3 linked regions of the Homo sapiens genome follow. The protein of the gene in region 2 interacts with the protein of the main gene of each other region in a pairwise test. Each region holds a gene or a part of one and is shown on either strand. Other genes may lie near its edges.

Region 1 (7,764 bases), on a different chromosome or scaffold from region 2:
GTGCAGTGGCATGATCTCGTCTCACTGCAACTTCCGCCTGCGGGGTTCAGATGATCCGCCCATTTCAGCCTCCTGAGCAGCTGGGACTACAGGCATGTGCCACCACGCTTGGCTAATTTTTTTTTTTTTTTTAAAGATGAGGTTTCGCCATGTTGCTCAGGCTGGTCTTGAACTCCTGGGCTCAAGCAATCCTCCCGCCTCGGCCTCCCAAAGTGCTAGGATTACAGGAGTGAGCCACCATGCCCAGCCAGCTATTTTATCAGGACAGTCTGCCTCCTTAACTGTTATATCCACAGCATTAGCCCAGCAGAGGCACATAGTAAATGCTGAATGAATGAATGAATGAATGAATGAAAGAAAAGAAGTACTTGGATACAGTCTGGAGCTCAGGAGAGAGCAAACTGGGAATCTGGATGGCAAACAAAGCCAGGGTATAGAAGTGATAGCCCAGGACAAGTATATACAGAGAGAGCAAAGCAACAGAAAACTAAAGAATCCCGGACATTGAGGAAAGCCCAGAGGATGTGACCAGGCAGGATGAGACCATGAGGAAGGGAGAAAACCAGCTCAAAGGAAACAGGGCAGTGCAGGAAGCAGAAGAAAACTGACACACACAGACACACAAGACAGCCTCTAATTAACATCCTTAGAGATGTTTCATCCATGAAACAAGAACAGGAGGCTATAAAAAAAGAACAGCCAGAGAACGAGAAAGAGCTTCTGGATAGGAGAAATAAAATTGCAGTGGAAGGGTTGAAGAATACAGACAAGGAAATCTCCCAGATGATAAAGGAAAGGACACAGAGATAGGAAAGAAGAGAGAGAAAGCTGAGAAAATCAGAAGAACAGGGCCGGGCATGGTGGCTCACGCCTATAATCCCAAGCACTTTGGGAGCCCGAGGTGGGAGGATCACTTGAGCCCAGGAGTTTAAGGCCAGCCTGGGCAACATAGTGAGACCATCTCTACAAAAAAAATTTTTTAAATAAGCTAGGTGTGGTGGCATGCGCCTGTGGTCTCAGCTACTTGGGAGGCTGAGGCCGAGTAGCCTACTTGGGAGGATCACTGGAGCCCAGGAGTTCAAGGCTGCAGCGAGCTACAATGGCACCACTGCACTCCAGCCTATCCCTAAAAAAATTTAAAAATAAAAACAAATGCCTGACTCACTGGAGAAGGCACTGTCTCGGATGCCAGGGGTGCTGAGTGCAGGAGCTGATGGGGCAGCAGTGCTAGTGGCCGGGGTGCTGTCAGGAAGCACCACCCTGAAAGGAAGTGAAAAGGGCCGGTGAGCAAGGGGGGACGCACAGCCTCAGCCCTCACCTCCCACCTCCCACCTGGCCACTCACAGGTAGCCTGGGTTGTGATAGTCGTCCTCATCCTCATCCGCATCCTCACAGGCTGGTTCTGGGGGTAACGACACAGGGGTCAGCCTAGTCCAGGACGGACCCCAGACTCCCCACCCAGCCTGGGCACCTCGGATCCCAGACGCACCCTCGTTCTCGTAGCTCGCCACACTGTTGGCTTCAAAGAGAGGGTGAGAGGGAGACTAAGTCAGCTCAGGCCAGGCCTATCTTCTTCCCAGCCCCCGCCGCCTGAACCCTTCCCCACACTTACCACCATCAGAATCCCGCCGGGAAGATGGCGTCCGGTGGGAGCCCCCAAGGGGCTGCGGGGATCTTCTGGGAGTCAAAGGTCAGGGGTCATGCCTGAGGTGGGGCTCAGGGGGCAACAGCAGTTGCAAAAGGGAAAGGGGCCCCCAATCCAAAAAAGTGAAGGGGTAGAGAGTGGAGTTTGGAGGGGGAGGGGCTGAGCTTTGGAGGGGCAGGGGCTGAGCAGCTACTCACGGGATGGGGAGCAGGTCTGGCTGGCTCAGGGGTGGGTAGGAGGTGACAGGTGGGTAGGCAGGTGGCCAGGGGGCAACCGTGTCTGAGGACACAGAACCAAGTTGAAAGAAGGACTCCGGACATCGTCAAGGCCTCAAAGAACAGACTAAGCCCCTGAAAGCCCCACACCCTGGACAGGCCTGGGGGAGCCATCTCCCCTCTCCCAGCTCAGGTCAAGGCCATGTGGGCAGCCCCAAGGTGGCAGGGGAAGTCTGAAGGTTCACGCTCACTCCCACACCAGGGGACCCTCTCCCTGGCACCCAAGGTAGGGGACCCTCCTTGTACTCACGAGGCCGTTTGAACTGGATGCCCCTTGGATACAAACTGGTAAAGGAGACACAGCTTGGGGATGGGGCTGGAAGATGGAGGATGGAAGCCCCAGCCCTGCCCCGCCATGGGGTGTGGAGGGAGACCCAGGGCGGCTGGGGCGGACTCACCTATCTGAGGATGTGCTGTCGTAGGAGCCTGGGAAAGAGAGGGCTGGTGAGGCAGGAACAGGGGGTGCTTAGGGCAGAAGGTGCTGGGATCCAGGGACTCTCAGAGGCGCTGGGATCAGGACGGAGGCAGGGACAGAGCCAGGACAGACACAGGGGCTGGGAGTGGATGAGGATCCCGTCGGTGTCCCTGGGCCCTGGGTACCCCCACCAGTTTCCCACTCACCTGGCAGTCTGTGGCAGTGCACACACAGTGCCATCAACATGGCCAGGATGGGCAGCAGCAGGAGCCCCAGCACGCAGGGGACCAGGATGGCCTCCTCCATCTGCAGGGGAGCTCGGAGCAGGCTGGCTGCACCCCTAGGCCCCTCAAGGGCAGAGTCAAGGCCAGATGAAGATGGGGTGAGGACCGGACCCGGCAGGGAGCAGGGGGCAGGTAGGCACCAGGTGGCAGGGGAGCCCGGGAGGAGGCAGCTGTGCCCTCCCCGGGGCTCCCGGGATGGGTCCCCTCTTTTACTGGGCTGAGTGTGCGTCCAGCTGACTGTGGAAAGTCCCTGCTCCCAGGGTGGTCAGACCAGGGCCTGGGCTGAAGTCGGGGGATCCAGTTACCCCTGCGTCCCAGCCCTACCTGCCCCTCCTCGGCGCCCGCCTCTCCGTGCCCGCCCTCCCGCCCGCCTGCGGCAGGAAGCTGTGGTGAGCGCCGGGCGAGGGCAGGAAATCATCAAGCTCTCAGCCGGCTGCACCCGCCCCCTTCCCACCCCACCCGCCAGTGGGGAGGGGGCAGGAGGAGGCCCGGGAGCCACCCCAGGCACTCACCAAGGGTCTGCTGGCCCCCCCCAAGACGGGGACAGCCACCTGCCAGCTGGCAGCCGTGGCCTCCATATCCAGGACCCGGGGAGGCAGCGAGCAGGGAGGCCCTGACAGTGGGAATTCTGGGGTACAAAGGGCAGTGCCCACCCCCACCTCAGCCAGGCCTGTGAGGCAAGGGACAGGCTCCAGGGAAGCAGGGGCGTGACTCACGGTCACACTCAGCCAGCTCACTCGGAGAAGAGCAGTCCCCCATCTCAGTCGCCCAGCCCAGAAGGGCAGAGACTCACCCAGAGCCCTGAGGAATGACCCACAGTCTTCAGGAGCCCTGGGGTGAAGACGGGGTGCAAGATCAGAGGCCACCCAGAGAAAGACGAGAGCAGGCACCTGGGGTCTGGCTACAAATTTTATTCCGTTACAAATAGCACCGAGCCCTTGGGGCTGCCCCTGTGGAGAGGGATCCCCCTCCTGGACCCCCACCTCCTCCCCTGAGCTACCCAGGTAGTGTCTGGGAGCTGGCACACGGCCCAGGGTCCCTCTGGAAGCTGGGCCAGGCCAAGGGGTTAGGCCCAGGCCCTTCGTGGGGTGGGCCCAGGGCCAGCTGTGGCAGATGTGCAGGTAGGTGAGCGGCAGCCTCTCAGATGAGCACACTGGCCACGGGCACGCGGGTGGAGCGGCCCCGCTGGGGCACCACAATCCGGTCGTCTGTGGACCCTGCTTCGTGCAGCAGGCCTGAGGGGGGAGGGTCAGAGCCAGGGTGAGCTGGATGGACAGACAGACAAAGCCAGAGAAGGGCAAACAGGCAGCGGGAAATGGATGGGGCAGCCACAGAGCCACCCCAGGGGTGGATGCAGACAGACTGGAGGCCAAACAAGGGGAGGGCTGTGGACTGAGCTGCCAGGTGCACAGGAGTGGGCAGACAGATGGACAGACAGACAGGCAGATCAAGAAGCTGGGCCGGGCACAGCTCCTAACTGACCCTGCACGTGCAGCTGTGCCCGCCGGCGGTCGGCCTCAATGAAGATGGCGGTGCCCAGGAAGGCTGCGCCGCCCAGTGCCCCAACAAACGCGCAGAGCATGAGCGAGAACTGCAGAGCCCGGAACTCGGACAAGAAGGAGGGGGGCCAGTTCCGGCGCAGGCGGTCAGAGATCTGCAGGGAGAGGAGACAGGAAAGCCAGGGGAGTCAGCCTCATGGATGAACCAGGGAGGGCACGCCCCTGAGCTCCAGGGAGAAAGACAAGTGGAGCCCAGGAAAGGGAAGGAGGTTTGAGCTAGATGCAGTGGCTCATGCCTATCATCCCAGCTACTCAGGAGGCTGAGGTGGGAGGATCGCTTGAGCCCAGGAGGTCGAGGCTGCAGTGAGCCATGATCGTGCCACTACACTGCAGCCTGGGCAACAGAGTGAGGTCTTGTCTCAGGAAGAAAAGAAAAGAGAAAAGAAAGGAGGAGTTTGGACCACCAGGGTGAGGTCCCTGGCCTTACTGGTAGAAATATTCAAAGACAAAATCTTTCTCCTCCAGTTGACAATGGAAGGTGAGAAGTGCCCAGCACGCAGGACACAGACACTTCACTAGGGCCAGGCCTTCTGATCCAGCCCAGGCTCAGGACACCAGCCACCCCATGCCAGCCAAGAAATAATGCTCACCAGGCCAATGAGGTAGGGGCTCCCAGCATCACCCAGCAGGTGGGACAGCACGATCTGGAAGGCCTCGGCGGTGGAGCGTCGGGTAGGGATCACCACGTACTGTGGAGGAGTTGGTGGAGCTCAGTGGATGCTCTGGGCTCCAGGGGGCAGGAGGCAGGGGGCCAGGAGACCACCAAGGATCCGCCTAGGCCGGGGTCAGAGGTGTGCCTGGGGTTGAGGTCGCAGGGCAGGCCGGGGGTCTGCTACAGATGTTATTTATTGCAGAAGGTAGGTTGAGGCTGGGCTTTGAGGGGTAGAGGCAACACTCCTGACCCCAACTCTGCTCTCATCAGCCTCTGCGCTGACCCTGGAGCTGCCCAGCAACTCACCAGCAGAATGTCGGCCACGATGGCCCAGTTCATGGACAGGAGGGTCTCTCCAATGAAGATGAAAATCTGGGGGAAGAGAGGGTCGGGGGTTCATGACAGTAAGGGCTAACACATGGAAAGTTGACCATGTTCCCAGCTCATCTATTAACTAATTTAATCCTCATCACACCCCAGTGAGACAGGTGCTACTAATATCCCCATTTTACACATGATGAAACTGAGCACAGAGAGGTTAAGTCACTTGTCCAATGTCACACAGCTGGGAAGAGCCAGAGCTGTGATTCAAAACCAGGCATTCCACCTCGAGTGGCCATTACGCTGACTGCTCCTCCACCCTGGACCCACGCCATCCCCCTTGACACCTGCTGGCTACTCACATAAGTGGCCACGATGCTACCACGGGCGCAGGCAAGGGACAGGAAGAGGAAGGGTGCAGAGCCCAGGAGGCCAGTGGCACAGACCAGGGGATCAGCCCGGGGGTTGGAGTGGCGGAGCCGGCGGCTGATCTCCACACCCAGGCCCACACCCAGGACTCCGGTCAGGCAGGTGATGAGTCCAAAGATGAGACTAGGGGTGAGGGAAGGGAATGGGGGGTTTGTCCCTGTGCCTGCCAAGGCCCCTACGCTGTCCATCCTAGCCACCCTCACAACCAAGGTCCCTACAGACACAGCACCCCATGGTTGGCACAGCCCTGAGTGGCAGACATCATCCCATCACTTATTTCCCAGACCAGGAAACGGAGATTCCAGGAGAGCAGGCAGCTTGTGAAGTCAGGAGTCAAACTCCCTGCCTGGGTCTGAGCCACAGATGCTCTTCACTCCAGCCCTGCCACCCGCAGGCCCCCCAGCATAGCCCCATCTGGGCACCTGTCAGAGGAAGAGCAGGAGTCTCCGGGAAGGCAGGGTGGGGTCTCCCCAAGGACCACGCGGGAACGCAGCAGGAATGCCGGAGCCCACAGAGCCAGGGAGCCCGTGACAAAGGCCACAGCAGTGAAGCCCAGGGAAGACAGGACGAAACTAGGACTGCAGATAGTTGGGAGGGAGAGAGTAAGACCCCACGGAGGTGTCGAGGCAGGAGGGGACCTCTCTTCTCCCTTCCTGGCTTATTTTAGTAAGGTCACAACACCGTGCAGAGGTGGTTCTGGCTCCCAGGATCTGGGCCTGTAATTCAAGCAGCTGCCACAAGGGGACAGTATCGACCGAATTACTGGCCTTGGGGTGTGGCCAGGAACAGGAACATCCCCACTTAAACCTCAAACCAGACGCCAGGGGGCCTCAGATGGTGGTCTAGGGTGGGAATAAACTCACTTTCTTGCCAGAGCCCTCAGATCTGCCCACCACGAGGTGGGGTTCAGGGGTGGCAAATCTGAGTGGCGCTCCACGGCTCCCCTTGGCGGCTCCCGCACTACCAGGAACAGCAGCAGAACGGCCACCACTCCTAGACCCGGTGTCACCTGGGAGACAGAGGGCTTCAGGATAGGCACAGGGAGAGACACACTCAAGCCCTGGGCTGGAGGAGAGTGTGGGGTACAGATAACTCCAGCCTGAGACCTAAAATACCCAGTTAAGTGCCTGCTCCAAGAAGCCGAACCTGCAATCTGGGGGAAGGGGGCTGCCACTAGGGGCCACCCTATTTTTGCAAGCCTAGCTTTGTCTCCTCTTTGGTAATTTTCTTTTGGGAAACCAGTACCCCTACTTCTCTCAATCCACTTGGTTTAAATAGGATCCCAGGCTTGGCCAACAAGAGGACTGTTAACCACCCCAGCCTCGGTGACGGATTCCGCAGAGGGCACGTGATGCATGTTCATCTAGTCAGACGCTATCCTGGAAACACGGCCCCAGGGTCCAAGGTGCCAATGTTGCTAAATGGAAAGGTAATCATCTGGAGTTCTCACGTCCTTAAGAATGATGTTAACACAAAGGAAAGTAAAGCTCAGAAGAGAAGGGCAGTGTGGGAGCCCTGGATCCAGCTTTACCTGACTGAAGCTCACCTGGGACTTTCAGGAAGAAAGCCAAGACAGCCCCTTTAGGGGGCTTACGGTTTGTTTGTTTGTTTGTTTGTTTGTTTTCGAGACAGAGTCTCACTCTGTCACCCAGGCTGGAGTGCAGTGGTGCGATCTCGGCTCACTGCAACCTCCGCCTACTGGGTTCACGCCATTCTCCTGCCTCGGCCTCCTGAGTAGCTGGGACTACAGGCACCTGCCACCACGCCCAGCTAATTTTTTTTTGTATTTTTAGTAGAGACGGGATTTCACTGTGTTAGCCAGGGTGGTCTCAATCTCCTGACCTTGTGATCCACCCACCTTGGCCTCCCAAAGTGCTGGAATTACAGGTGTGAGCCACCGCACCCGGCCTCTAGGGGGCTTACAGTTTTACAATGGGCTTCTGTCACCTGCACGCAAGAATTCTGTCTAGCACATGGCTTCCAGGTGAGGGCAGCCAGTCTCCTGCAGGCTCAGCAGAATGAGAGCTGCCCCAAAAAAGGGGTATTTGGAGCCAGGCGCATGGCTCACACCCGTAAGCCCAGCACTTTAGGAGGCCAAGGCAAGAGGATTGCTTGAGGCCAGGAGTTCAAAACCAACCTGGGCAACATACAAAGACCCCATCTCTACAAAAAAAAAAAATTTTG
Region 2 (7,771 bases):
TCTCACTGCCACCTGGAAAGACATCAACTAACCAGACTGCAAGGAGGTTTAGAGCAAATGCCCAATTTTCATCTCCACCTCCTAAAAGCATATTCACAGGGAAATGCTTGTTGAAATTATAGAAGCAGTTTCAAGATGGGATTTATAACTATACTGTCATTTATTAAGTTCTTCCAAATGCACTCTCACTGCAATAATTAAGACTTTGGGGCTGGGAGGGGTGGCTCATGCCTGTAATCTCAGTACTTTGGGAGGCCAAGGCGAGTGGATCACTTGAGCCCAGGAGTTTGAGAACAGCCTGGGCAACATGGCGAAACTCTGTCTCTACAAAAAAAAATACAAAACTTAGCCGGGTGTGGTAGTGTACTCCTGTAGTCCCAGCTACTCAGGAGGCCGAGGTGGGAGGATCAATTGAGCCCAGGAGGTGGAGGTTGCAGTGAGCCGAGATTGTGCCACTACACTCCAGCCTGGGTGACAGAGCCAGACAGACCCTGTCTCAAAAAATAAATAAATAAATAAAAGACTTTAGGCCACAGGGACACCAGATTCACTGAACCTCCACAAGCCCATCTGCAGAATTCTACCTTGTTATGGTTGTACTGAATTTAAATTTTATAACACATAAACATGAAGAACAAAGACGGTGTCGAGGAAACACATGATGCTATCACCCACATCCTGTTCAACTTTACAGATTACCGAATCCAATATTAAAGTTAACGTAAAACACAGGTGAAATGCTCCCATTTCAAGTTCCAAATTAGGCACTGGTCAGATCTCACTAGTGGTATAATTATTAGACTTTTACATAGTGCTATTAAAATGACTCAGGTATTTTTATATATTATTTCTAAACTGGATGCTTTCCTATTAGGAAATGGAGACAACAAGATCTTCAGAGTATTAACCAGGATTTAAATCTCAGCTTTATCACATATCAGCTGTGTTATCTGCTTACGCTATTTGGTTTCATTTTCTTTTTCTTTTTTTTTTTTTTTTTTTGAGATAGGGTCTCGCTCATGGCCCAGGCTGGAGTGCAGTGGTGTGATCTCAGCTCACTGCAACCTCCACCTCCTGGGTTTAAGCCACCCTCCTATCTCAGCCTCCTGAGTAGCTGGGACTACAGGCAAGTGCCACCACACCTGGCTACTTTTTGTATTTTTAGTAGAGACAGGGTTTTGCCATGTTGCCCAGCCTGGTCTTGAACTCCTGACCTCAAATGACCTACCTGCCTCGGCCTCCCAAAGTGCTGGGATTACAGGCATGAGCCACCAAGCCTGGCCCTGGTTTTATTTTCTCACTTGTTAAATGGGGATAATACTAACATAACAGTTGCTGTGAAGAAAAAATTGCCTATAATATGAACAGCATACTTCTGACATATAGTATTTGTTCAATAAATGAACAATAGTCCTCTTAATTTGTTGTTAAAACAAACAAAACAAGCTTCAGAAAATGGAAATACGATAACCTTATAGTCAGGCCTCTCCTCTTGAAAGATCAAAAAAAATTCTGATTATGTTACAATAGATCATCAAGTTGGGCTTACAGCTATTTTAGTCTTCGTTTATAATTATAATATAAATGAACACAAAGAGCAGATGCATACCTTCCAAACTTTCTTGTTCATCCGAGGTGTAAGTGTCCATCTGACTTTGTTCCCGTAAGAAACGAATAACTGCATAAACCAGGTGCTTGATAGATGACATTTTAGAAGCTTAAACACTTTTCCTTGATAAGAAAAATGAAAACACTGAACTAAGTTATTTTAAAGAATCAGTCAGGAAAGTCATAAATTACAAAGATGATATGGGTTATAAAGTGTATTAAAGGTAAAAACAAAACACAAAACTGTATGACCTTTCATCTTTTCTCTTTGTAAAGAGTCAGGAGAGCACAAAGTATTGTGAAGGTAATTTATTACATATTTTCATTAATACCCAGTGGTATACGAGTATGTTAAATCTTGGAATAAGTAAAAATGTCTTCAAAACATGTACAGCATAAGCTTAGACTGTCACTGCATATCTCACCATACAGAAATCCCCTAAAGGCCTCAGTACTAAGTTAAGAGGCATTTCATACTGCTGACTAAAAGCTGATGTATACCAAGCATCTTCCTCTTTTTCATGGGATCTAAAAAAAGTATTAATAATGTACACTCTACCCACTTTTGTAGGTTGAGAGTTATTTGATGAGGAAACACATTCGCGAAAGGTTATTCAAGTGGTGAGTGTCGTTCTTAATAAAAATGGCATTTCTATTTAATCAGCAGACATGTCAGGAAATCGCTGCCCAAGTCGATGGATACTACAAGCCGACCGGCGCTCCCTGCAGAGGCTGTGCTCTCGTGGACAAGCTGGAAGCTCCCGGTCATGTTCATTCACATGGAATACTATCGCATCCAAACAGTGGCGCAGGGCCAGGCGGCATTCATGGCTGATTTCCACCAAATCGCATCATCCATCTGCTCCCCAGGTTCCCTAATTCAAAGCCAGGGTGTGGTACCCGCCGCTATAATGTTTATTATTTGTGTAGTTATTTTAAAGGCGATGTCAGCCTCTAGGCCACGGGGTCATAAGCACTAAATAAGGCCCCAGGGCAGAAGGTAAAAACAGAATGGGGGGAAAAGGGGTGAGAAGAGGGAAATAGGCTTCTCCCCCTTCCTCTCCCCAGAGCGCATCGAGCTCCCCCTCCCTTCCGTCCTCCCTCAGGTACCCGGCCTCGCCTCGGCCCTGCCCGGTGTGCAGCGGGTGCCGGTGCGGGCCCCGGTCCGGAGCGGCGGGAGGCGCACCCTTGCCAGACAGAAGCCCCTTACCAAGCAGGAGGACGCGAGACGACTGCTGCTGGCCCGCGGGGTTCCGTAGGCAGGCCCGCCCGACCCCTGGTCCTCGGGGCTGGAGCCCGGCTCGGGATCGCAGCACTGGTCGCGGCGGCGCAAACTTCCCCGGCCCCTAGGCCGTAGACCCCAGAACCCACCAGGCTGTGCTCTCTCTCAGGCGGCAGGGTCTGGCCAGCACCGCCCCTGGGGCGGGGCCGGACGCGAGGGCTGGGGCGGGGCCAGACACGCGAGCTGGGGCGGGGCACGGCGCGGGGCGGGGCTGGTAGGCGCCGGCGTGGAGCTGCCGCACGTGGGAGGGCGCTGGCCAGGCAGCCACTGTGGCCTCTGCGGCTAGGCCGGCTCGAGACTCCCGGGCGCCCAGGCGCTGCCGCCCGCCTCGCCGCCCCACGCCGAAGGACCACGCGCCCGCCGCCGCCAGCCTCTCAGCGCTCCCATGATCGCCCGGTGCCTTTTGGCTGTGCGAAGCCTCCGCAGGTACCTCCAGCGCGCGGGTTAACCTTGGCCGTGGGCAGGGCGGGGTCTTTCGCCGTGTGGTGCCTGGAGCCCGGACCCACCCCTTCCCGACCGCGCCTCTCCGACGCTCCCGGGACGCACCCTCCCCGCGGCTTGCAAGGTGGACCCCTGGGGGACACCTGGCGCGGCCACCTGGGGCCACCTTTCCCGCCTCCGCTCCCTCGGGAGGACGTCCATTCCTCTTTGTTTGGGACTGCCTCAGCCGCAGTCAGCGAGGCTGGTCACAGACGCGGCCCAAAATGAATGCAAATAGTTTGGATAAGAAAATCATTTCACGTTCAATCCCAATGCAGAACTACAGACCTGTCATTAAAAGTGCCGCAGCTGTGGACTCAGAACAATTGTGTTTGCTCCTCGCGCCCATTATTAGCATTCCAATCGTTTAACATCCACCCGAGATGAAACCTCTTTGGTGGTGTTGCTTGTTTCCGTCCATGCTCTCTGACTTCCTTTTTTATTTTCCTCCTCCCCATAAAACAAACATTCTGCCTCTTGCCGGTGCAAATTGACTTGGCCCAAAATGGAGAAAATGATCGCTTGGACACGGCTTTGGGCAGCCTGAGCTGCTGTTTTGGATTGCTTCCTAGCCCTCTAACCACACCCCACTGCAACAGACCAGTAGCAAGATGGTGAGGGAATTAAATTCTTTGCACGGATGCGCTGGTTTTCGGAAACAATGCCGCCACCATCCCCGTTTCCAAATCTGCCCAGAACTGTAAATCCAAATGAAGATTCAACAGAATAAAGAAAATGTGTGCTTCTTGCTAGCTATCAACAAAACTACTTTGTAACATGTCAGCATTTAAGCTTTCTACAGTTCCCTTTTGCACATTGCCACTCGTCTGTGTGGATGGAGCTTTGTGTTGCTCAGTCCGTAGAGTTAGGGAGCAGGCAGGCGACAGTGGTTAATTACAAAGAGTTAATGTGGTGATTGGTGACCATATTTCAGCCTGTCGTTTTTTGCTAGTCTCCAGGCTGCAATCGATATAGCTGTCAAATGAAGTTATACCAAGAAATGAAGACTTCACATAATGCAGGGGTGAGAGGAGGGAATAAATCTTCATATAAGAGCAATTCTCGGCCGGGCGCTGTGGCTCATGCCTGTAATCCCAGCACTTTGGGAGGCCGAGGCGGGTGGATCACGAGGTCAGGAGATCGAGACCATCCTGGCTAACACGGTGAAACCCCGTCTCTACTAAAAAATACAAAAAATTAGCCGGGCGTGGTGGCGGGCGCCTGTAGTCCCAGCTACTCGGGAGGCTGAGGCAGGAGAATGGCATGAACCCGGGAGGCGAAGCTTGCAGTGAGCCGAGATCGCACCACTGTACTCTAGCCTGGGCGACAGAGCAAGACTCCGTCTCAAAAAAAAAAAAAAAAAAAAAAGAACAATTCTCAAACTTTTTATTCTCAGGACCCCTTTACCTTTCAAAAATTACCGTGGACCTAAGAGCTTCTGTTTGTGTGGTATATCTGTCTATATTTACCATATTAGACATTAAAGCTGGAAAAAAATTAAAGTAGTTGTTAATTTACAAAACTAATAAATAGGCTAGGTGCATAAATAGTGATTTTAATGAAAAATAACTATTTTCCAAACCAACCCCCCCGCCCCCCAATCAGTGAGAAGATTAACATTGTGGGGTTTTTTCCCTTTTTTTTAAAATTGTGGTAAGATATAACAAAATTTACCATTTTGATAATTTTTAAGTGTACAATTGAGAGGTACAGCCAACACCACTGTCCATCTCCAGAACTTGTCATCATCCCAAACTGAAACCCTGTACCTATTACACAATAACTGCCCATTACTTCCTCCCCCAATCCCTGGTTAACCATTATTTTTTCTCTATGAATTTGAGTATTTCAGGTCCCTTATATAAGTGGAATTAGACAATATTTGTCCTTTTGCGTCTGGTTTATTTAGTATAGCGTTTTTAAGGTTTATTCGTTTTGAAGCATGTGTCGGGATTTCCTTTTTAAAACTGAATAATATTTCATTGTATGTATATACCACATTTTGTTTATCCATTTGTCAGTGGACATTTGGGTTGCTTCCACCTTTTGGCTATTGTGAATACTACTACTATGATCATTAATGTGCACATGTCTGTTTGAATCCCTGCTTTTAATTCTTTGGGATACTGTATGTACCTAGAAGTGAAAATTGCTGAGTCATAGGATAGTACTATGTTTAGTTTTTGAAACCATACTGTTTTCTTCAGTGGCTGTACCATTTTTACATTCCCATTGGCAGTACCTAAGGATTCCAATTTCTCCACATCATCATCAGCACTTATTTCCTGGTTTTGATAACAGTTATCCTAGGAGTGGCATTGTTTCTTTTTTTTTTCTTTTTTTTTTTTTTTGAGACAGAGTCTCTCTCTGTCGCCCAGGCTGGAATGCAGTGGCGCTATCTCGGCTCACTGCAAGCGCCGCCTCCCGGGTTCACGCCATTCCCCTGCCTCAGCCTCCCAAGTAGCTGGGACTACAGGCGCCCGCAACCACGCCCGGCTAATTTTTTTTTTTTATTTTTAGTAGAGACGGGGTTTCATCCTGTTAGCCAGGATGGTCTCGATCTCCTGACCTCGTGATCCGCCTGTCTCGGCCTCCCAAAGTGCTGGGATTACAGGCGTGAGCCACTGCGCCCGGCAGAAGTGGCACTGTTTCGCATTTTTGCAAAACTAATGTGTGACATAATAGAAGGTAACTGGATTCTTATGTCTGCCTCTGCATTTAAGCTGCTGCACTGTTTCATTTTGGTTTAAGATGAAGAAAATCCCACCTCACAGTCATATGAAGTTGGAAAGAAGAATATTTTAATAGCTTTTTAAAGATAATCATGGATGTTCTTTGATATCACATCAAAGTTTGACAAATCGTAGCTTTTTAAAGGTTAGTTACAAAGTGGAATTTGAAACTATATCAATGTACTTGTTTTACACTGTTACATTAATATCCAATGGTGTACCTTACACTTTGAATGGATGTTGAATCCATGCCTGTTTTTTAAAACATTAAGCATAAGTCCTTCGGAAATTTTAGTGGTTCACTGTGTTATACAGTTCTTCCTAATGTTGACATATTTCATTATACAGTATCAAACAATCACTTTCCTTAATGTCTTCCTATTTAGTCGGAAAAGTCTTCAAGTATTGGGAAGCTGTCAAGCTCACAGTGGCAGATAGGATTTTCCAAAATTCTAGTTTTCACTTGAAAGCTAGAATTTTATCATTGGTAACACAAACTGTCAGTTGTTTTACTTGAAGTGACAATCTCACTTTGTTACATTTTTGACAGAATTTCTGCCACATACTTAAGTCTGAATAACCCTGGTTTGTCTGTCAGTAGTTTTTTTCTGGTAAAAATGGTGTTCCATGGGCTGGGCACGGTGGCTCACGCCTGTAATCCCAGCACTTTGGGAGGCCATGGCAGGTGGATCACGAAGTCAGGAGATCGAGACCATCCTGGCTAACACGGTGAAACCCTGTCTCTACTGAAAATACAAAAAATTAGCCGGGCGTGGTGGCGGGCGCCTGTAGTCCCAACTACTCGGGAGGCTGAGGCAGGAGAATGGCGTGAACCCGGAAGGTGGAGTTTGCAGTGCGCCGAGATTGTGCCACTGCACTCCAGCCTGGGCGACAGAGCGAGACTCCGTCTCAAAAAAAAAAAAAAAAAAATGGTTTTCCATGAAAAAAATCTATTTCAGCTCACAGTTCAACCAATTGCAAAAGTGCTTTTGATTTGGGCAACCAAATCCTCAGGACAACCCTTATACTCAGGTACACAGCAGAAATGCTTTGTGTGTACTTGGTCACATATAACTCAAAGGTAGAGATTTAATAAAAATTCATACTTTTTACCATTTCATTAAGGATATTCTAAAATGAAATTGACATTATTTTTAGCCTGAGTGCATGGCAATGAAAAATATAGCTACTAGTATAGTTTGGTGTCATTGCCTCAATTTGTGCTGAAGTACCAACAGTATTATCCACCATTCCTTTTCGCCATCAGTGCAAATGTTCATAAAGTAAAAAGGATAAATAATGTCTTAGTATTGTTATGAAAGATTTTTAACCTCACAGATTCCTTGAAAGTGTCTCAGGAACCCCTCCCCATACCTCTACCTTTAAGGTTTGTGGACTACATTTTGAGAGCTGCCGATATGTGGTATTAGATTCTTTGTTTATGCATGGAAGAAAATAAATATACTAATAGCCAAAAAATTATTACCTTGTTAGAAGCTACCATAAATATATTAACTAATTTGTTACATAAGGGCATATCTTACAGTTAATCATCATATATGGTAGTCCTTAACCCAGGGCTTCCTTGACTTAATCACAGAATCTGCTCTGTTTCAAAATCAGTATCTTCCAAAAGAGTTCATATTAGACAACATGGAGGACCCCCTGT
Region 3 (7,434 bases), on a different chromosome or scaffold from region 2:
CGCGCCACTGCACTCCAGCCTGGGTGACAGAGCGAGACTCCGTCTCAAAAAAAAAAAAAGAAAAGAAAAGAAAAAAGTGAGGCCCAGTGGGAAGCCAGGACCCTCGGACCACGTGAGGGGAGGTGTAGAGGGGATTGTCCGGGCCAAGGGAGACAAAACAGCTGCCATGTCTTCCCTCAGACACTCACACATGCTCATTCTTATCCTCCTCTGGAACTCTTTATTATCTCAAGTAAGAAAAATAAAAAAATAAATAAGATAAATAACCTAATAAATAAAGAGGAGATGTCATAGTAAACAGCCTCTGGCTTCAGGAAGCGTAGCTGGGGCTTCGGCCCTGGGAAGGTCCCACCATGCTCAGAGGGTCCGAGGAGCCCACATCGGGGGGCTGGGGGGCCAGGATTCCGGGTGGCTCCGGGAGTGCGGGGGGCAGGCCTGGTAGTGGCAGGAAGCGAGCTGGTCCTCGGGGTGCAGGGTCCCGGTGTGGGGACTTGTTCCCTGGCAGGTGCAGCGGGAGGCCGTGGGCTTCGGACTGGTAAACATTGTATCCGTCCTCAAGAAGCAGCTCCCGGAAGCTGCAGGCCTCAGGGTCAAAGTGGAGCTAGGGGACAAAAACAGGATCAGAGACAGGGTTCCTCTGTTTTCCTGATGTAAGACCCAGGATCCAGGCCCCAGCCCTGCCTCCCTCAGACCCAGGGGTCCAGGCCCCCAGCGCCTCCTCCCTCAGACCCAGGGGTCCAGACCCTAGTTTCTCCTCCATCCGACCCAGGAGTCCAGGCCCCCAGCGCCTCCTCCCTCAGACCCGGGGTTCCAGGCCCCAGCCTCTCCTCCCTCAGACCCGGGGTTCCAGGCCCCAGCCTCTCCTCCCTCAGACCCGGGGTTCCAGGCCCCAGCCCCTCCTCCCTCAGACCCAGGGGTCCAGGCCCCCAGCCCCTCCTCCCTCAGACCCAGGAGTCCAGGCCCCCAGCCCCTCCTCTAGGAAACAAAACAGCAAGGCAGGTTTTGTTTTTTACCCCAGGGCTCTCCTGCAGGGACCTGCCTCCCAGTTCAGACTTCACAGAGAACATTCCAGCCCTCGGAGCCATCAGTGCTCTCTCAGGCCAGGCGGGGTGTCTCCCTAGCACTCAAGGTCCTGGTCACTTTACTGGCCATGGCTTCCCCGAGTGTCCCTGTGCCCAGCATGAGCCGTGCACACAGGGGCCGTGTGGGCAGGAGCAGGGGTTACTGAATCACGAGACTCCCAATAACCTGAGCCTCAGGCCGCTCCAGCATCCACACATCACATGATTGAGGTCACTGGCGCCCCGGCCTGGGCCTCAGTTTCCTCATCTTGCAAACACTGATGACAACTTCAACCTCCAAATGTTGCAGCTGGGGGCGTGCAGAGCAAATAGAATCAAGTCTGGCTCCGGGGGGGATGAGCAAGACAAGGCACCCCAGGCTGTGAGGGCGACATATAGGAGGAGCATGGTGGGTGGTGAGGAGGGTCCTGGAAACTCACCGATCCATACAGGGCCCCATCTGGCCGCTGGCACAGGAACCTGGATGTCTTGACTCCCAAGATTTGAATAACTCCCGGCTTCAAGGCTTTCAGCTGCAGGAGACCTAAGGGGTGAAAGCGATAAGGTGGTTCGAGGACCTCTCCCACCCGGGACTGTCCCACCACCCGACTCTGTCCCACCATCCGGCTCTGTCCCAGCCCTGGGAGTCCAAGCCCACAGCCTACCTCCTCCCTCAGACCCAGGAGAAGCCCAAGCCAAAGCCCCCTCCCAACTCAGACCCAAGAGTCCAGGACCCCAGCCCTTCCTCCTTCAAACCCAAGAGTCCAGACCCCCAGCCCCTCCTCCCTCAGACCCAGGGGTCCAGACCCAGCCCCTCCTCCCTCAGACCCAGGGGCCCAGATCCCCAGCCCCTCCTCCCTCAGACCCAGGAGTCCAGATCCCCAGCCCCTCCTCCCTCAGACCCAGGGGCCAAGGCCCCCAGCCCCTCCTCCCTCAGACCCAGGAATCCAGACCCACAGCCCCTCCTCCCTCAGACCCAGGCTCTGGCCCACACTCACTTTCGGGGCTCTGGTCAGCAGCGCCCCCCACCGTCCCATCCTCCCTGATCTCCAGGTGGGCTTCTGTCTGCTGGGCATCATCTGTGTAGAGGTACCGCTGCCGGACTTGGCCCCCGAATTGCAGGAGAGGACTGGAGTCAGGGATGGGGTGTGCCTGGCAGGCTCCCAGCAGAAGACCAGCCAGCACAGAAACCCACAGTCCTGAGTGCTCGAACCCGGTCTCGTCCGAGTCCATCAATGGCTCGGGTCCTCAGGTGATCTCCGGGGTGTGAGCTCGGAGAAGCTGAGTGGTTTAGAATTGGTGCCAGATTCCAGTTGTCCAGGTGAGTAGACTCAGGTGGCCTGAGTGCCTGGCTCCTCTTTCGGCTGGATCCTCAGCTGACAGAACACCCTTGTTTTTTGGGATAGATGCAGAAGCTCCAGAATTTATACCCAGACAGGCCCGCCCAATCACCCTCCCTGCGCCTGAACCATGATATTTGACCCATTTGGCAGGAGCTACAGAATTCCATCGTGGCAAGGGCAGCCTGAATGGATGATGTAACCTGGGGTCCTTTCAATGGAGGGCCAGACTCCTGGGTCTAGGGGATGAGGGAGGGGAGGATCGGGTTAGCTGGGACCCAGGTGAAAGGGGCTGGGGGCCCACATTCCTGAGTCTCAGAGAGAAGGATCTGGGGTCTCAAGCACCTGAGTCGGAGGGAGGAGGGGTGCTGGGCTCCTGGAAAAACCACCTCTTGGACCATCTATGCAGATCACGCAGAACAAGAGAAATTTCTGCGCCCCATCTGAATTTCTAAGTTTGGGGGGAGGGCGTGATCTGACACTGAGGTTCCTTGATCCTCAGCAAGGCGGCAATTGCTGTATGAAAGAAGCGACCGCATCTGAGACACAAGTATCCTGCCTTGGAAGCCTCTCACCTGGCCGTGGGCCAACCTCAACCTCATCTGTCCCTGCTCAGATGCTCAGACCCTGGACATCCCAGCCTCCTCCTCCCTGATGCAATCCTGGTGTTTCTTTCACCAGAGAAGCCATCCCAGGCCCAGGCAGGTGCTCCTGAAATAACCTGGGGGGAGGGGTGGCTGAAAGTCCCTGACTGGAGTTGGCAGCCAAGCCAGGCCCTGGAGTGGGCACCCAGAGGGAAGACAGGTTGGCTAATTTCCTGGAGCCCCTAAGGGTGCAAGGGTAGGCCTTCTGTGTCTGAGGGAGGAGGGCTGGGGCTCTGGACTCCTGGGTCTGAGGGAGGAGGGGTGGGGGGCCTGGACTCCTGGGTCTGAGGGAGGAGGGTCTGGGCCTGTACTCCTGGATCTGAGGGAGGAGGGGCTGGGGAACTTGGGCTCCTGGGTCTGAGGGAGGAGGGAGCTTTGGTCTGGACTCCTGGGTCTGAGGGAGTAGGGGCTAGGGATCTGGACTCGTGGGTGTGAGGAAGGAGGGGCTGGGGTCCTGGACTCCTGGGTCTGAGGAAGGAGGGGCAGGGGGCTTGGACTCCTGGGTCTGAGGAAGGAGGGGCCGGGAGCCTGGACTCCTAAGTCTGAGGGAGGAGGGTCTGGGGGCCTGGACTGCTGGGTGTGAGCAGAAGGGTCTGGGTGCTGGGAGTCCCGAGCCTGGGGAGATGATGGTTAAACTTCTGGGAATCAAGTCAAACTCCTGAGTCTTTGACATTGATGTATCTTGAATGGGAGGGTCAGTCTGTGGGGAAGGATTACCCAGGTGCCGAGGCAAGAGACTGAAGGCACAAACTGTTTCAGTATAATAAAGAAAATAGTTAGAATAAGAATAGTTATCATACAAATTAGATATAGAGATGATCATGGACAGTATCAATCATTAGTGTAAACATTATTAATCATTAGCTATTACTTTTATTCTTTGTTGTATAACTAATATAACCAGGAAACAACCGGTGGGTATAGGGTCAGGTACTGAAGGGACATTGTGAGAAGTGACCTAGAAGGCAAGAGGTGAGCCTTCTGTCACACCGGCATAAGGGCCTCTTGAGGGCTCCTTGGTCAAGCGGGAACGCCAGTGTCTGGGAAGGCACCCGTTACTCAGCAGACCACGAAAGGGAATCTCCTTTTCTTGGAGGAGTCAGGGAACACTCTGCTCCACCAGCTTCTTGTGGGAGGCTGGGTATTATCTAGGCCTGCCCGCAGTCATCCTGCTGTGCTGTGCTTCAATGGTCACGCTCCTTGTCCTCTTGCATTTTCCTCCCGTACTCCTGGTTCCTCTTTGAAGTTCGTAGTAGATAGCGGTAGAAGAAATAGTGAAAGCCTTTTTTTTTTTTTTTTTGAGGCGGAGTCTCGCTCTGTCCCCCAGGCTGGAGTGCAGTGGCGTGATCTCGGCTCACTGCAATCTCCGCCTCCTGGGTTCACACCATTCTCCTGCCTCACCCTCCCAAATAGCTAGGACTACAGGCGCCCTCCACCACGCGCCCGGATAATTTTTTGTATTTTTAGTAGAGACAGGGTTTCACCGTGTTAGCCAGGATGGCCTCCACCTCCTGACCTTGTGATCCGCCCGCCTCAGCCTCCCAAAGTGCTGGGATTACAGGCGTGAGCCACCGCGCCCGCCCGAAATAGTGAAAGTCTTAAAGTCTTTGATCTTTCTTATAAGTGCAGAGAAGAAAACGCTGACATATGCTGCCTTCTCTTTCTGCTTCGGCTGCCTAAAAGGGAAGGGCCCCCTGTCCCATGATCACGTGACTTGCTTGACCTTATCAGTCATTTGGACGACTCACCCTCCTTATCCTGCCCCCCCTTGTCTTGTATACAATAAATATCAGCGCGCCCAGCCATTCGGGGCCACTACCGGTCTCTGCGTCTTGATGGTAGTGGTCCCCCGGGCCCAGCTGTTTTCTCTTTATCTCTTTGTCTTGTGTCTTTATTTCTTACAATCTCTCCTCTCCTCACAGGGGAAGAACACCCACCCGCAAAGCCCCGTAGGGCTGGACCCTACGTTAGCCTGCCCTGCTCGGGGTTGGCGATGCTGGAGGTGGGCCTTGGACCAGAGAAAATGCTTTAATTAGGTGACAAGCGGGCAGAGGCCTTTGTCTCTGGCGCCGGCAGCCACGGCCCCCGCTGACGGCGTGGGAAACAGACCCTGTTCCACTCCGGTCTCCAGCCTTGGAATGGTTGCCTTCGTGCAGTGCAGGTCTGGAAAGTAGCAGTTTGGCACGGGACCCTAGAATTCCCCAAAAGGAGTGACTAGGGGCTGGGATTCTGGAATTTGAGTGTGGACGGTGAGGCGGGGGGTGTGGGAGATCGGAGACCCTGGTGGGCGCGGGAGCACCTGCAGGCTGGAGGCCCTCGCGCGCTCCGGCGGCAGCCTGGCAAACAGGTTCTCCATCCCCCAGGAGGACGCGGCAGAGGGCGGACGATCGCTCCACTCGCCGGGACCAGGTGCGGGGGCCCTGCCCAGCCGCTGGGGCGTGGCCAGGCTCGAAGCACCCAGGTGTCGGGGGCCGACTCTAAGCCCTGGCACCGGAAGAGAGAGGGCGGCGGATTGGACCTCCCGGCTCCAGCATTGCAACTGGGCGCTCCGTCTCCTGGTCCACGCAATGATGCTGCGGCTGCTCAGAAGCCAGGTAGCCTGCCCTGGGTGAAGCCTTCGCGCAGGTCAATGACGGGGCGGAGGGGCAGGGCGCGGTCCCCTGCATCCCCGATCTGGGGAGCGGTGGGCCCAGGGGCCATCGCCTTAGCCCCTGGCGCTGGGGCTCGGCGCCAAGTGACGGGCGGGGCTCCACCTTCCAGCCATCCGCCCGGCCCGGGAGGGCGGACGCTGCGAGACTCCCGGCCGCGCCCTCTCCTTCCTCTCCTCCCCAAGCCCTCGCTGCCAGTCCGGACAGGCTGCGCGGAGGGGAGGGCTGCCGGGCCGGATAGCCGGACGCCTGGCGTTCCAGGGGCGGCCGGATGTGGCCTGCCTTTGCGGAGGGTGCGCTCCGGCCACGAAAAGCGGACTGTGGATCTGCCACCTGCAAGCAGCTCGGGTAAGTGGGGACTGCCCCACTCAGTTGTTCCTGGGACCCAGGAACAACTCCTTCAGAACCAGGAGGTGCACCCCCAACCTCTTCTCCAGGTCTTCCTAAGGCCCTAGGAATCTCCGCCACCTCCCCAGCCATTACTCCTCCAGGAACCAAGATGCTCCTTCCGCTCCTGACCCTCCAGCCTCTCTTGTTTTACTTGAACTATCGTTTCCCATCACCACCTCTGTGGTGGATTTTGCGCCTCACAGACAGGTACTCCTGAGAAACAGGCTGGTGGAAGAGTCCAGTATCAGCGGAACTTACAGGAGGGGAGACTCGAGATTCCTTCAGGAAAGGTGTAGGAACCTGGACCACTTTCTTTTTTTTTTTTTTTTTTTTTTTTTAAGACAGGGTCCCTCTCTGTCGCGCAAGCTGGAGTGCAGTCAGCGGTGCTATCGCGGCTCATTGTGAGCTCCGGGGATCCTCCCGCCTTAGCATCCGGTGTAGCTGAGACCACAGACATGTGCCACCATGCCAAGCTAATTTTATTTATTTTTTTTTGGAGACGGAGTTTCACTCTTGTTGCCCAGGCTGGAGTGTAATGGCATGATCTCAGCTCACCGCAACTCCCGCCCCCCGGGTTCAGGCGATTCTCCTGCCTCAGCCTCCCGAGTGGCTGGGATTACAGGCATGCGCCACCATGCCCGGCTAATTTTGTATTTTAAGTAGAGACAGGGTTTCTCCACGTTGGTCAGGCTGGTCTCGAACTCCCAACCTCAGGTGATCCACCCACCTTGGCCTCCCAAAGTGCTGGGGTTACAGGTGTGAGCCACCGCGCCTGGCCCATGCCAAGCTAATTTTAAAATTTTTTTGTAAGAGTGCTCTGTTGCCCAGGCTGATCTTGAACTCCTGGGCTCAAGGGATCCTCCCATCTCAGCCTCCCAATATGCTGGGATTACAGGTGTGAGCCACAGTGCCCAGCCAAACCATGGCTATCTTGAAAACCACTTGTCTTCCAGTCCCCATGCCCCGAAATTCCAAGGCTCTCATCCCTGAAACCTAGGACTCAGGCTCTCCCTACCTCAGCCCCAGGAGTCTAAACCTTTAACTTCCTCTTTCCCTGGGACTAAGGAGTGCTGCACCCCAGGCGCCTCCCTTACCCCACATCCCTCCTCAGCCTCCCCTCCTCAGCCTCAGAGCATTTGCTAATTCGCCTTTCCTCCCCTGCAGCCATGTGGCTCCGGAGCCATCGTCAGCTCTGCCTGGCCTTCCTGCTAGTCTGTGTCCTCTCTGTAATCTTCTTCCTCCATATCCATCAAGACAGCTTTCCACATGGCCTAGGCCTGTCGATCCTGTGTCCAGACCGCCGCCTGGTGACACCCCCAGTGGCCATCTTCTGCCTGCCGGGTACTGCGAT

The links. The genes of interacting proteins can lie anywhere in the genome.
Region 1: the proteins of SGTB (region 2) and LAT interact in binary tests that used the Homo sapiens proteins (3 or more experiments, as listed by UniProt).
Region 3: the proteins of SGTB (region 2) and FGF21 interact in binary tests that used the Homo sapiens proteins (3 or more experiments, as listed by UniProt).

Annotation. Positions count from the first base shown.
Region 1 is NC_000016.10:28,980,295-28,988,058, reverse strand, and holds the start of LAT (linker for activation of T-cells family member 1), read right to left. Parts: upstream 3,008-7,764; 5' UTR 2,684-3,007; coding exon of another isoform or gene 2,642-2,683; coding exon 2,542-2,641; intron 2,347-2,541; coding exon 2,319-2,346; intron 2,206-2,318; coding exon 2,171-2,205; intron 1,925-2,170; coding exon 1,843-1,924; intron 1,678-1,842; coding exon 1,613-1,677; intron 1,520-1,612; coding exon 1,490-1,519; coding exon of another isoform or gene 1,403-1,489; coding exon 1,345-1,402; intron 1,261-1,344; coding exon 1,166-1,260; intron 1-1,165. Other genes in the region: SPNS1 (protein spinster homolog 1), read right to left, coding at 3,380-3,450, 3,620-3,854, 4,769-4,867, 5,137-5,202, 5,514-5,703, 6,003-6,158, 6,444-6,589. UniProt on the Homo sapiens protein: Required for TCR (T-cell antigen receptor)- and pre-TCR-mediated signaling, both in mature T-cells and during their development.
Region 2 is NC_000005.10:65,719,099-65,726,869, forward strand, and holds the start of SGTB (small glutamine-rich tetratricopeptide repeat-containing protein beta), read right to left. Parts: upstream 3,012-7,771; 5' UTR 2,819-3,011; intron 1,732-2,818; 5' UTR 1,710-1,731; coding exon 1,610-1,709; intron 1-1,609. Other genes in the region: NLN (neurolysin, mitochondrial), read left to right, coding at 3,276-3,316. UniProt on the Homo sapiens protein: Co-chaperone that binds directly to HSC70 and HSP70 and regulates their ATPase activity.
Region 3 is NC_000019.10:48,751,097-48,758,530, reverse strand, and holds FGF21 (fibroblast growth factor 21 precursor), read right to left. Parts: upstream 3,008-7,434; 5' UTR 2,747-3,007; intron 2,641-2,746; 5' UTR 2,295-2,640; coding exon 2,060-2,294; intron 1,606-2,059; coding exon 1,502-1,605; intron 602-1,501; coding exon 311-601; 3' UTR 201-310; downstream 1-200. Other genes in the region: FUT1 (galactoside alpha-(1,2)-fucosyltransferase 1), read left to right, coding at 7,250-7,434. UniProt on the Homo sapiens protein: Stimulates glucose uptake in differentiated adipocytes via the induction of glucose transporter SLC2A1/GLUT1 expression (but not SLC2A4/GLUT4 expression). Activity requires the presence of KLB. Regulates systemic glucose homeostasis and insulin sensitivity.